2 linked regions of the Homo sapiens genome follow. The protein of the gene in region 1 interacts with the protein of each later gene in a biochemical or structural test. Each region holds a gene or a part of one and is shown on either strand. Other genes may lie near its edges. The genes, in order: CYLD and SPATA2.

Evidence for each region.
Region 2: the proteins of CYLD (region 1) and SPATA2 form a complex in vitro, tested with the Homo sapiens proteins (one study listed by BioGRID).

The regions. Positions count from the first base shown.
Region 1 is NC_000016.10:50,745,072-50,752,347, forward strand, and holds part of CYLD (ubiquitin carboxyl-terminal hydrolase CYLD), read left to right. Parts: intron 1-4,477; exon of another isoform or gene 4,478-4,504; 5' UTR 4,505-4,627; coding exon 4,628-5,131; intron 5,132-6,532; coding exon 6,533-6,835; intron 6,836-7,276. UniProt on the Homo sapiens protein: Deubiquitinase that specifically cleaves 'Lys-63'- and linear 'Met-1'-linked polyubiquitin chains and is involved in NF-kappa-B activation and TNF-alpha-induced necroptosis.
Region 2 is NC_000020.11:49,905,522-49,912,797, reverse strand, and holds part of SPATA2 (spermatogenesis-associated protein 2), read left to right. Parts: exon of another isoform or gene 1-2,346; intron 2,347-4,205; 5' UTR 4,206-4,307; coding exon 4,308-4,643; intron 4,644-5,952; coding exon 5,953-7,179; 3' UTR 7,180-7,276.

The sequences.
Region 1 (7,276 bases):
ATAATCACACAGTTATCCAGCCTGAAGTAAGATAGTATTTAGATGAGTCATTTGTGATATACTCACTCAAAGTGATTCAACCTGCAAAATAATAAGAGAATACAAGTGAAAATTTCTCCCTTCACACTGACCCCTCACCCCCACCTGCCCTACGGTGACTTTGAATTTAGCTGTGCTTCTTTTTCCTTCAGTTGTCTTACTGTTCCCTAGGCCTTTACTTAAAGGCAGAAGCTGAGTGAATGTGGATTGATGTTGGGTTTTTTTTTGTGTGTGTTCTCTCTTTCCTCTTTGTTTTTTTTTTTTTTTTTTTTTTTGAGACCAGGTCTTGCTCTGTCACCCAGGCTGGAGTACAGTGGTGTGATCATAGCTCTCTTCAGCCTGGACCTCCTGGGCTCTAGCGATCTTCCCATCCTCCAGAGTAGCTGGGACCCTGAGTAGCTGGGCCCACAGGCAGACACCACCACACCCGGCTAATTTTCTTTTCTTTTTTTTTCTTCCTTTTGGGACAGGCTCTCATTCTGTCACCCAGGCAGGAGTGCGGTAGTGCTATCACAGCTCACTAAAGCCTTGAACTCCAGGGCTTAGGGGATCCTCCCACTTCAGCCTCCAAAGTGCTGGGATTACAGGAGTGAGCCACTGTGCCTAGCCTAGATGATGTAGTTTTCAGTATCTAACTCTGTACTGAAAGCGTAAAAAATACCAAACTAACAAACCAACCTTCTTGATGATAAATAACTCATTTACAATGTGATTTAGATCTTTCCCTTCATATTGTGTTGAGTCAGTTTTTACTGCTTGGGGTACCTAAGACTTTAACTATTTAACTACTATGCACATCCCAGTGAAAGTAGACTGTTGGTGTTATATTCACTTCTACAGTGGGGAGAAATGTATGTTAGCATATTTTTATTGCAATACTGGTATTTTGAGTACATAAAATAAATATATATATATAATGGAGTGTGTATATATGTGAGAGAGTGTGTGACAGGGTCTTGCTTTTTCACCCAGGCTGAAGTGCGGTGGCGTGATCATGGCTTGCTGCAGTCCCTCCCTCCAGGGCTCAAGCCATCCTCCCACCTCAGCCTCACAAGTAGCTGGGACTACAGGCACATGCCATCACACCTGGCTAACTTTTGTACTTTTTGTAGAAATGAGGTTTCACTGTGTTGCACAGGCTGGTCTCAAACTCCTGGGCTCAAGCTGTCCACTCACCTTGGCTTCCCAAAGTGTTGGGATTACAGGCGTGAGTCACTGTGCCTGGCCGAGAATATTAGTGATCATTCAGTTGATTGCCTTGTATATCTCTAGACTCGAGCCGTAAAGTTTCCCATTCAACTTTCTCTATCAGTTGCAGTGAAGAGAATCAATTTTTAATAAGAGAGTTTCAAACTTGTTCTTAATATATTCTTTCTGAAAGAGGAAAGGCTGTATCCTTTATTTTTGGATAATGCTTTTGAAATATTTGATAACTTGTGCTTGACTATTTTAGTTGTCTAACATGACCCATCCTATTGCTAAGTCTAAGCTCATTTCCACTTGTGCTAATGAAAGTTAGGAAAAAAGTTACCACTCCTTGTAGAGTTCACTTTAAAATATGGTACTTGAAAGCTATAGTTTATTACCCTAAAACATTTTTATAAACCTAGCAGTTATATCAATTTTTACTGTGGATTCTCTTCCTTAAATTATTTCAGAAAGCAAGCTTATAATCAAATTTATTTAACATAATGTCCTAATGCACATATAGTAATTTAGTTTTGTCTTAATAATAGATTATTAGCATTAATGATTTTTATTTTAAATTGTGACATGAATAGTTAAGCTACAGGACCAATAGAGTAGGAGCTGTTGGTATAAAGCAATTATTAAGATTCAGGGAAGTTTCTGATTGTAATATTTGAAGACATTGTTCTTAGGAATTTTAAAAAAGAATTTCTTTTCAAAATAGAATTACTTTACCTTTTTCAAAAAAATTTTGGCCCTAAAAATCTAAATACATTTTAAAGAGAACCAAAACAACAGCTCGTTTTTTTGAAAGTTGCTTTTTGACTGTCTTAACCTTCTGCTAGTGACCAGACTCTCTATTCAATAAAGCCTATGTGCCCTTTGCTCCTAAAGACCCTTTCAGAATGTATGCATTCCTCTTTTCACGATTGTTGCTTTGTGTTTTCAAACACACAAACATATTTCACTACCTGGCTTCTCAGAACTGATTCGAAGCGATAAGTTGGAAAGCAACAAGGCCGTAAAAGGAGTCAAATGCATACAGCAGGAAACCACAGAAAATGGCTGATTGCAAGGGAAAACTCTAGACAGTAGATCTGTAGAAAGCATTCGCGACCTCAGGAAGCATAAGATACAGCCTTTTAACAAAATAACAGCCTTGCAGATCAAGAGTTATGCAAAATAATTTACAGTCATAATGATACATCAATGATCAAGAAAAAAATAAGGACATTTTCTTGTGGAAAGTGTTGACATGTTAAAAGCATTTTGGTCAAAAAGAACCAACACTTCAGTTTGGTCCTTTAAAGGAATCCAACCAAATTGAGGGGTTGGATAGCTGTTTGGGCAGCCCTTATAAGGAGTTTTGTTTATATTGTGTCAAGATAGAGGTTTCCACAGGTGTCTTATATAAGTGGCAAATATAAATTGATCCCATTCTTGCTGAAGTAGACAGTGCCCTCAAGTGGAATTAAAACAAACACACCACAAAAAAGAAGAAAAGAGAACCACTTCATGCTACCTCTGCTTTTACCCTCACTGAGTGTTACACAGATATTTCAGTCATGTTGGTTTGAAGGAGGTGCCTAACCTGTATCCTGTCTTGGCTAAACCACATGTCTCATGCTGGCTTGTAGAGGGAGAGACTTTTAGGAACGTTACCATTATGGAATACTTCATTATCTAGCAGTGCTTTCTAAAAGAAGTGTTCCACTGTGTATAGATTTGCCAGGTTGTTTGATCATTAAGTGATTAAATCTAAAATTTGGTTCTTTAGGAGTATTTATTTTTTAATTGCTAGAATAAAATAAATATGATAGTGCTATCAATTGCAGCCATTACCCAGAATAATGGAAATGGATACCTCTATCTCAAGGAAGGATGAAATGAAAGTACTGTCTTTGGAAACCAGATAGCCACATTCTTATGACAGGGATACCTAGGAAGTATTGTTTTCAGCAGAAAATTAATTAAAATAATGAAGTAAAGTCTCAGTTTAAATTAATGAAATTGTGTAGTTTTTTAACCATCAGTTAAAATAGGTTTGAGAATGAGCCTACTTCATTGGAAAGATTATTATTCTTGTAAAAATTTTAAATGAGGACCAGGTGCAGTTGCTCATGCCTGTAATCCTAGAACCTTGGAAGGCCAAGGTGGGAGGATCATTTGAGTCCAGGAGTTTGAAACTGCAGTGAGCTATGATCGCACCAATGTACCCAAGCCTGGGTGACAGAGCGAGACCCTGTCTTAAAAATAAATAAATAAAATAAAAATAAATGAAAATTTGAAAAAGAAATAATAGAAAGAAATTATAATGCAGTTATATCATGATATTCCCTTGCTATGTAGTACAAGTTTTGATGCTACAAAATTGATTTTTAAAATATTTTTAATATAGTCATATTATAATATCTGATATTTGCGATTTGAGAAATCAGATAACTATGATTAATGTGATGAACATTGCCCATCTTCAGAAAAAATATATGAAATGAAGTTGAGTCAGAGGTAAAATGTTCCATTATCACAATATGGCCATATCATAGCTATCATTTATAGGCATGAGCCACACAGCTCAGCCCGAAACGCTACTTTTAAAAGTTTATTAGTGTCAGAATATGGGACAGGCCTGGTGGCTTACGACTGTAATCCCAGTGCGTTGGGAGGCCAAGACAGGAGGATTGTTTGAGCCCAGGAGTTCAAGACCAGCTTAGGCAACATAGTGAGACCCTGTCTCTACAAAAAATAGAAAGCTTAGCTGTGTGTGGTGATATGCGTCTATAATACCAGTTACTCGGGAGGCTGAGGTAGGAGGATCACTTGAGCCTGGAAGGTCTTGGCCACAGTGAACTGTGATTGTGCCACTGCAGTCCAGCATGGGCAACAAGAGTGAGACCCTGTCTCAAAACAAATAAATAAAAATAAATTAAAAAAAGTTAGAATATGTATATAAGGGTAATCTTTAAAAGTTTTTACTAGAATCTGATTTTATAAATTTCAGTGTCTTGGAAGCAAACATTGTGTTGTCTTTGAAAGTACTTTACAATTGGATTTCATTAATTAAATATGCACAGTTACAGTAGATAAAAGTAATACAGTATGTATGTCTTTTAGCCCTTTTAGATATTTTTTGAAAATATTTCATTTGTGTGTATGTGTTTACTGGTCAAATGAAAATTTTAAAAGTCTTCAGTCTTAATTTTCAGTCATGTAGAATGAAGTCTAAAGTTTATTTTTGCTTTTTCACTAGGCATTTTGATTTCCTTTCTTTTTACAGCATGGACACCACGTTGCTGAAAACATGCTTTGGGACTGCCACTGAATTTATCTTTTGCGGTTTTATGACAAAGTTATTAGTAGTTTCCCTTTTTTGAATTAGTATTTTGAAGTTAATATCACAATGAGTTCAGGCTTATGGAGCCAAGAAAAAGTCACTTCACCCTACTGGGAAGAGCGGATTTTTTACTTGCTTCTTCAAGAATGCAGCGTTACAGACAAACAAACACAAAAGCTCCTTAAAGTACCGAAGGGAAGTATAGGACAGTATATTCAAGATCGTTCTGTGGGGCATTCAAGGATTCCTTCTGCAAAAGGCAAGAAAAATCAGATTGGATTAAAAATTCTAGAGCAACCTCATGCAGTTCTCTTTGTTGATGAAAAGGATGTTGTAGAGATAAATGAAAAGTTCACAGAGTTACTTTTGGCAATTACCAATTGTGAGGAGAGGTTCAGCCTGTTTAAAAACAGAAACAGACTAAGTAAAGGCCTCCAAATAGACGTGGGCTGTCCTGTGAAAGTACAGCTGAGATCTGGGGAAGAAAAATTTCCTGGAGTTGTACGCTTCAGAGGACCCCTGTTAGCAGAGAGGACAGTCTCCGGAATATTCTTTGGAGTTGAATTGCTGGTAAGTTTGATAAACCATTTTAGTAGTGTGTTTGTTTGTGTTCATGTGTGTCTGTGTATTTGTATGCACATACATATTTTTCTCCTTAAATACGAAATAAATTTTCCCAAGAGTCTTCTGTAATTTTTAATATTCATCATCCTTGCTGATGAATCCATGTTGTGGTTGAATCCATAATCCAAAACTTGCTTATAGTTGTCACTGATAATATGTGTGAAAATCACCTTGGCGTTTATTTCTGTTGGAAAGAGACCCAAGAACTCTGTGATATGTTTCCAAGCTTAATATTCATTCTTGAGAACTTAAATGTCAATTATATTTTGACATTCTTGCAAATAGAATTGTATGCCTTCTTTGCTTCTTGATTTAATTTCTTTTGTTTACTTTTTAATGATGAATTGCGAAGATGTAAAGATGATGTCGAAACTTAAAAAACTATGTACTATGGTAGGAACATACAAAGAGATTCACCTGGCTATTGCAGACATATATATTTTAGAAATTTTAACATTGCCTGTATTAAACATGAACGCTACCAGTTGTAAATAGTTACATAAAAAATTGTTAATTACCTTGCGTTATCATCTATAGGTTTCTTAGTTCTTCTTAATGTATGTTATTAAATAACAATTTAGATATAAGATTTTTGAAAAAAAAGTTGCAGAAATTTAAACTTGCTTATAATTGTCCCCGATAATATATGTGAAAATCCTTAGAATTTATTTCTACCGGAAGGAGACCCAAGAATGCTGTGATATGTTTCCAAACTTAATATTCATTCACAAGAACTGAAATGCCAATTACATTTTGACACTCTTGCCAATAGAATTGCATGTCTTCTTTGCTTCTTGATTTAATTTTTTTTAAAAGCAGTGATTGTAAACAATTAGGAATTTGAATCCCAGTTAAGCCATTTACTAGCTGGGTTGCCAGGTTACTTAACAAAGCTACTTAACTTCTCTCATTCTGCATCCTTACCTGTACAATGGTGTTAATAGTACATGACTTGTAGTGTTTTTGTGGTACATTGATGCAGGATTTAAGCACAGTGACTGACAATAAGTGCTTAATGAATGGAGCTAACATTACTGCTATTTTAAAGTAACATTTTCTTTTTATAACCAAATTAATGTTAGAATCACAACGTGGAATTCAGCCTAGCTTTCTCATGATAGAGTTATGAATTGAAATTATCAGATAATATTATTTCAGCATCAGATACAACTTCTTATTTTTTAAAACACTCTAAATCCAACAGAAACTGCTAATAATTGTATTTCTTATTATATGTATCATTTAGAAATTTTCCAGAGTGATTTTCCTGAAATCCCTAGAGTGAACCCCTTTTCCTATGGATCGTCTTTCTATATCTATTTCTTTCCCTTCTCTCTTAAAAACTAGGAAGAAGGTCGTGGTCAAGGTTTCACTGACGGGGTGTACCAAGGGAAACAGCTTTTTCAGTGTGATGAAGATTGTGGCGTGTTTGTTGCATTGGACAAGCTAGAACTCATAGAAGATGATGACACTGCATTGGAAAGTGATTACGCAGGTCCTGGGGACACAATGCAGGTCGAACTTCCTCCTTTGGAAATAAACTCCAGAGTTTCTTTGAAGGTTGGAGAAACAATAGAATCTGGAACAGTTATATTCTGTGATGTTTTGCCAGGAAAAGAAAGCTTAGGATATTTTGTTGGTGTGGACATGGTAAGAAAATTTTGGATTAAATATCTTTGTGATATATATATTAGTTTATATATATATGTATATATATATATAAACATATATATACACACATATATATACACACATATATATGTATAGTTTATATATATATGTATTAGTTTTAGGACCAATTTACTTGCAAATTGAACACTTTGAATATTTAACATGATCTAATTTGGAGTACTTTAAAGAACATGTTCTAATTTATCTTTGGTAAAGGAGCATTGAAATAGAACAGGGGTCTAGATACAGATTACATTTACTTTTTTTTCCCATTTGAATAAACTAGAATAATGTTCTCTATCTTTAAATTTGCCTTATTGTAGCTGACCAGTAGACAAAACAAAACAAGACAAAACACAATTATATTACTTGAAGTCCTATTTTTCTTTATTTTGAAACAGTTTTTTGGGGTACTCCATT
Region 2 (7,276 bases), on another chromosome or scaffold:
TATTTTGAACATCAGCTGGGCTGTTTGGATCCCTTTCCTTTATTTATTGTTTTTCAGCAACAAACAAGGGTGTGGACTGTGGTGCGATTATAGAGCAGCAGACGCTGAGCCGAGCTTGAGACTGGCTGACTTTGTAAAAAATCAGTCTCTTTGAGTTCAAGGCTGACTTCCTTGGAGAAAAATTACAGCAGTATTCGGAAGCTTAATGTCTCTGTGTTTGAATGGTTCTCAGACTACCAAAAAACAGACCCTGGGGCCAGAGGCGTGATGGCAGCTTCTCTTAGATAAGTCAAGAATGGTAAATGCATGTGTGACTATCCTCTCCAGTGGTGCAATACATTTATTTATGTAGAGATGGAGTTTTTGCTCTGTTGCCCAGGCTGGAGTGCAATGGCACGATCTCAGCTCACTGCAACCTCTCCCTCCTGGGTTCACGCCATTCTCCTGCCTCAGCCTCCTGAGTAGCTGGGATTACAGGTGTTCGTCCAGCTAATTTTTGTATTTTTAGTAGAGGCGGGGTTTCGCTATGTTGGCCAGGCTAGTCTCAAACTCCCAATCTCAGGCGATCCACCCACCTTGGCCTCCCAGAGTTGTAGGATTACAGGCGTGAGCCACCGCGCCTGGCCTGCATTTTTATTTTTTAAGAGAATATACATTTTAAATTGTTTATTTTTTTATGGACAGAACAGTATGAAGTTAGAGCACATACCTACTTTGATACTAGGTGGTATGCTCTTCCAGCTAGAGCTGCAGGCAGGATGTGTCTCCTTTATTGCTGTCCTCTACCTGTCCCACCCATCCCCATTCCCCGACTGGGTCCAGCTCAGGCAGAGGGTGGGGGCTGCAGAAATGCTTGCTGGACATGGGAATCGTGGGGTGGTGAGAGGAATACAGGTTCCAAGTCAGAAGGCCAGGCTTGGATTATCGGGTCCATCATCTGCTAACCTTGAGCTACTTGTCGTACCTCATGCCATCTTTCTGAGCCCGTTTCTTTGCTCTCCAGCTGATCTCCCAGGATTCTTGGGAGGTACCAATGAGAAACTAAAGTGATGGCATCGTGAATGCAGACATCCTTTGCAGCATCCATTTCTCTTTTTCTCTTTTCTTTTTCTTTTTCTTTTTTTTTTTTTAGAGACGGAGTCTCGCTCTGTTGCCCAGGCTGGAGTGCAATGGGGCGATCTCGGCTCACTGCAGCCTCCGCCTCCTGGGTTCTAGCAATTCTCCTGCCTCAGCCTCCCGAGTAGCTGTGATTACAGGCGCATGCTGCCACACCCGTCTAATTTTTTTTTAAATTTTGGTAGAGACGGGGTTTCACCGTGTTGCCCAGGCTGGTCTCGAACTCCTGAGCTCAGGCAATCCACCTGCCTCGGCCTCCCAAAGTGCTAAGATTACAGGCGTGAGCCACCGTGCCTGGCTGCAGCATCCATTTCACCTACTTTATCAAGCACAGGCAGGCTCTGTGTTAGGCATCGTGGTGAACAACACAGACATGGTCCTTGCCTTTATGGAGCTTACCACGAGCTTACCAGCTTACCAGGGAGGGTGAGGGGTGGACAAAGAGAGGAAGCTAATGAATGAATGAAGTTGATAGTTTCAGATTGTGGTTATCGTAGGAGAATGTGACAGTGTGGAACTGGGAAGGTGAGATAGGGTGGTACCTCTAGAGGCTGATGTTTGAGCTGAGGCCTGAATGATGAGAATCTTCCTGAAGCAGAATTTTATCCCAAGTGGATTTTGTTTTCTTTTGTAAAGACAGGGTATTGCTATGTTGCCCAGGCTGGTCTCGAACTCCTGGCCTTGAGCAATCCTCCTGCCTTGGCCTTCCAAAGTTTAGGGATTACAGGCGTGAGCCCCCGCACCTGGCCCCTAAATGGATGTGTTTGCCTCCTGTACTCCTCAGCCTTATTTGTCACTGTAGCACTGGGCTCCCTCAGCAGTGCAGTGTGTTGGAGACAGTGGCCTCTCTGTGTCCCTAGTTTTGCTACACATCCCACCTCTCACCGCACCATTAGTACTCCCAGGAGTCTCCTCCTGGGGACAAAATCTGTGGAGGAGCCAGACTACTGGCTCTTTGAGATGAGGATGATTTTGTTGACCTCCTGATAGTTGCTGGGCTCGTAGGACCTTCCTAGCTGAACACAGGTCTGCTAAAGGAGTCCCCCACATGCCAGGCCCAGTCCTGCTGCAGCTTCTCTCAGCCCCTTGCTGTCTCCCACACTCAGCAGACATGAAGCACACAGGTCACCTTACTGAGCAAGATGGTCACAGGCCTGCACCCACGGAGCTTCTGGGCAGGAGCAGCAGGACCAGAGCATGTGAAAATGCACATCTACCACCCAGTCAGAGGTATTTGCCCCACTCAGAGAAGGCCTGTCCACTTAGGGGTACAGCACCTTCAGACAACAGCAATGGCCATCAAGGACTTCCCGGAGCCGGCTCTCTGAGCAGCTTCATATTCCATCATGCATAATCCTCTCGCCAGCTCTGGACAGAGGCGCTATTATTAACCCCGTTTTATAGGAGAAAACCGACACCCAGGGAGGTGGAGCAATTTGCCCAAGTAACCTGGAGAAGCAGCCCTGGCCTCACTCGCAGGTGCCTGGCCTTGGACCCCGTGTCCGTGACCCTGCGCGTGTTGTCTCCCCTGGCCCTGGCAGTGTCCCTCCATTAATCCGGATTCGCTCCCAGCGTTGTGGTGACAAGAATATTGCTGGATCTGTGCCTGTTCTACTAACAAGTGGCTAAGCAGATGACAAGATTGTGTAAAGCCTGTGTCCCAGCTCAGAACATTCTATCCTCTCCCAACAGGGGGCTGTCAAGCGCTCTGGTGATAAAGGGGCCGCAGGCTGTCAAAGGCCGGTAACAGCACTCCAGGGGCCGGTAGCCACGGTGGCCTCTTTTGAAAATTGTAAATAAGACCGTATCTCTCTCCCCTCGCTGTAAACTCTTCAGTGGCTTCACGTGGCTCTTTGTATAAAATATCGAATTCTGAATGTGCTCTTGCGGCCTTGGGGCTGAGGGTCCCGCTGATGCTGGCATCTGCCTCTCCTCATGCCCCTGCCCTCGTGGCCTCGGCCTCACTGGCTGCAGTTCTGTTACTGTTCCAGGCTTCCTGCCTCAGGAAAGCAGGGTGTGGTGGGTAAGGGCATGGACTTTGGAGCCAGATTGCCTGGGTTCTGAGCTCAGCTTCTCTGCCTCCTGAGAGTTCTATAACCTTGGACAGTTTCTTTTTCTTAAAAATTTTTTTGTATTTTTGTAGAGACGTGGTTTCACCGTGTTTCCCAGGCTGGTCTCGAGCTCCTGGACTCAAGCCATCCTCCCCCGTCAGCCTCCCAAAGTTCAGGAATTACAGGTGTGAGCCACTGTGCCTGGCCTACCTTGAGCAGTTTCTAATGTCTGTGTCTCAGTTTGCACATGGTCCACTGGGGCTGCCTGTAGCGTCTCTCTCCTAGGATTGTTTAAGAAGAAAAAGTGAGGCTGGGTATGGGGGCTCACACCTGTAATCCTGGCACTTTGGGAGGCCAAGGCTGGTGGATCACTTGAGGTCAGGAGTTCGAGACCAGCCTGGCCAACATGGTGAAACCCCATCTTGACTAAAAATACAAAAATTAACCAGGCGTGGTGGCAGGTGCCTGTAATCCCAGCTACTTGGGAGGCTGAGGCAGGAGAATCGCTTGAACCCGGGAGGCGGAGGTTGCAGTGAGCTGAGATCACGCCACTGCACTCCAGCCTGGGCTACAGAGCAAGGATCCATCTCAAAAAAAAAGTAAGCGAGTTAGTGTGTGTGAAGCTCGTCACGTGTCTGGAGCCTCTGGTACTATTAGCTCAGGGCCTTCCTCTACTGCGACTCCTTCCCCGGCCTCTTGGCCTGGCAGACTCCTCATCCTTCAGGTCTGTTGCTGTCTCAAGAGGGCTTTCCTAAACTCGCCCTTCCCCAACGAAACCAGGACAGGAGCTCCTGCTGTACTCACCCGAATTTCTCTTTCAGGAATATTAATCGTATTTTTCATTTGTGAGCACAACAAAGTCAAGGTCCATCTCTCTCTGGCCTCTGTTGTAACCCTGCTTGTAGTACATGCTCTGTAGTGTGCTGCTGGGGTCCAGTGTAGCCCAGGCCAGTTCTGCTGTTCATTTTGCCTCAGCGACCTGAAGCCGAAGCGCGACCGTATCGAGGAATGACATGCTTCTTGTTCCCCTCCTTCCAGAGCACTCCGCTGGTCCAGGCGGCAACATGTCCATGCTTTTAGTGATGTCCCTGCCTCTAATCCAGAAGCCATGGAGGAGATAAGGTAGCCCCCCTCGATCGGATGGGGAAGCCCAGTTCAATGGATACTAAATTCAAGGATGACTTATTTCGGAAGTACGTGCAGTTCCATGAGAGCAAAGTGGATACCACCACCAGCAGGCAGCGGCCTGGCAGCGATGAGTGCCTGCGGGTGGCAGCCTCAACCCTGCTCAGCCTGCACAAGGTGGATCCCTTTTATCGATTCCGGCTGATCCAGTTCTATGAGGTGGTGGAGAGCTCCTTGCGCTCGCTCAGCTCCTCTAGCCTGCGGGCTCTGCACGGCGCCTTCAGCATGCTGGAGACGGTGGGCATCAACCTCTTCCTCTACCCGTGGAAGAAGGAATTCAGAAGCATCAAGGTGAGGTCCTGGAGCAGCCTCCATACAGGCCCTCCTTCTCTCTTCCTGCCCCTGGCAGTCCCTCCTGAGAGGCTATGCCAGTCTGATCCCATCCATCCTGTGCTCTCAGATCCTTCCGGGCTCCGAACCTTCCCCGTCTCTCCAGCATCACCTCTGAACCGTTTCTGGCCCGGCTGCCACACCTTAAGCAGAGAAGCTGGGAAGGCAGGGGCAGCCAGGTTATGCAGGGTCTTGTGGCCCAGGGCAAGGCTTGGATTTGTTCTGAGTAGGCGGGGAAGGAGGCAGTGTGGGATCTGGCTTGCATCTGAAGAGGGTCATTCTGGCTGTGGTATGGGAAGTAGGCTGTAGAGGGGTGGGGGGAGGTGGGAGGGATGGGGAGAGCAGTTAGGAAGCTTCTCAGCGGTCCCAGCAAGCTGAGGGGTGTTCTGTACTAAGTGGGAACAGTAGAGGAGGAGGGGGAATTGAGAGAGGGATCCTGAATCAGACCACGCGGGGGATGGCACAGGAGAGCTGTCACCTAGCCAGGCTTCTTCATTCTGCCATGGGAGGAGTGGTAATCAAGAGAGGGGATGGCACAGGAGAGCTGTCACCTAGCCAGGCCCTTCAGTCTGCCGTGTTACTCAGCCCCTCATGGAAATACCAGAGAGGAACGTTCTGATTGTCACCGCGTTCTGCCTGTAATCTGGCCCCTTTATTCAGCCATGTTTGCCCAGGCTCTCTCTTCATATGGAGTAGAGTCTTCGTGCCCCACTAGGAAGCGAGAGGTTTTGCTTCCTGTGTTTAACAAAGTAGCTGCTGCCAGGCGCGGTGGCTCACACCTGTAATCCCAGCACATTGGGAGGCCGAGGCGGGTGGATCACGAGGTCAGGAGTTTGAGACCAGCTTGACCAGCACGGTGAAACCCCATCTCTACTAAAAACAGAAAAATTAGCTGGGCGTGTTGGCGGGCGCCTGTAATCCCAGCTATTCAGGAGGCTGAGGCAGGAGAATCGCTTGAACCCAGGAGGCGGAGGTTGCAGTGAGCCAAGATCGCACCACCGCACTCCACCCTGGGCAAAAGAGCGAGACTCCGTCTCAAACAAAAGAAAGGAGCTGCTGGGTCATTTCCTTGCACAATTCCTGAGTGCTTAGCAAGCCCCAGCTCCTGCGTCTTCTGCCTCCCGCAGGGTGAGGCTGTCGAGATCCTTCCCTGCCCTGCCCTCTCCCCGCCGCCCCACTTCAGAGCTGGACATCCTTTGCTTTGACATAGTCTCTGTCTTGTGTCTCTGACAGAAAACCCCACCTTTCTTTTCTACTCCCTCCCTTCTAGACCTACACGGGCCCTTTTGTTTATTATGTCAAGTCGACATTACTGGAAGAGGACATCCGAGCCATCCTGAGCTGCATGGGCTACACACCTGAGCTGGGCACTGCATACAAGCTCAGAGAGCTCGTGGAGACCCTCCAGGTGAAGATGGTCTCCTTTGAGCTCTTTCTGGCCAAAGTCGAGTGTGAGCAGATGCTAGAAATCCACTCACAAGTGAAGGACAAGGGCTACTCCGAGCTGGACATTGTGAGCGAGCGCAAGAGCAGTGCAGAGGATGTGCGCGGCTGCTCGGACGCCCTGCGGCGGCGGGCAGAGGGCCGGGAGCACCTGACGGCCTCCATGTCACGAGTGGCACTCCAGAAGTCGGCCAGCGAGCGGGCGGCCAAGGACTACTACAAGCCCCGCGTGACCAAGCCCTCGAGGTCAGTGGATGCCTATGACAGCTACTGGGAGAGCCGGAAGCCACCCCTGAAGGCCTCATTGAGTCTTCGGAAGGAGCCTGTGGCAACGGATGTGGGGGACGACCTCAAGGATGAGATCATCCGCCCATCCCCTTCGCTGCTGACCATGGCCAGCTCCCCCCACGGCAGCCCGGATGTGCTTCCACCCGCCTCCCCCAGCAACGGCCCGGCCCTGCTGCGCGGTACCTACTTCTCCACTCAGGATGACGTGGATCTGTACACAGACTCTGAACCCAGGGCCACCTACCGTCGGCAGGATGCTCTGCGGCCGGATGTGTGGCTGCTCAGAAACGATGCCCACTCCCTCTACCACAAGCGCTCGCCCCCTGCCAAAGAGTCCGCCCTCTCCAAGTGCCAAAGCTGCGGGCTGTCCTGCAGCTCCTCCCTCTGCCAGCGCTGTGACAGCCTGCTCACCTGTCCTCCAGCTTCCAAGCCCAGCGCCTTCCCCAGCAAGGCCTCGACTCATGACAGCCTGGCCCACGGGGCATCTCTGCGGGAGAAGTACCCAGGCCAGACTCAGGGCCTCGACCGCCTCCCGCACCTTCACTCCAAATCCAAGCCCTCCACCACGCCCACTTCCCGCTGTGGCTTCTGCAACCGCCCAGGCGCCACCAACACCTGCACCCAGTGTTCAAAAGTCTCATGTGACGCCTGCCTCAGCGCTTACCATTATGACCCCTGCTACAAAAAGAGTGAGCTGCACAAGTTCATGCCCAACAACCAGCTGAACTACAAGTCCACCCAGCTCTCCCATCTCGTGTACAGATAGACCGGCCTCGCCCCTTCCAGCTCCAAGGGCTACATCAACCGACCTTTCGGGTTTCACGGTGAAGAAGTACTAACGCATTGATCTCAGAGGCGGAGGC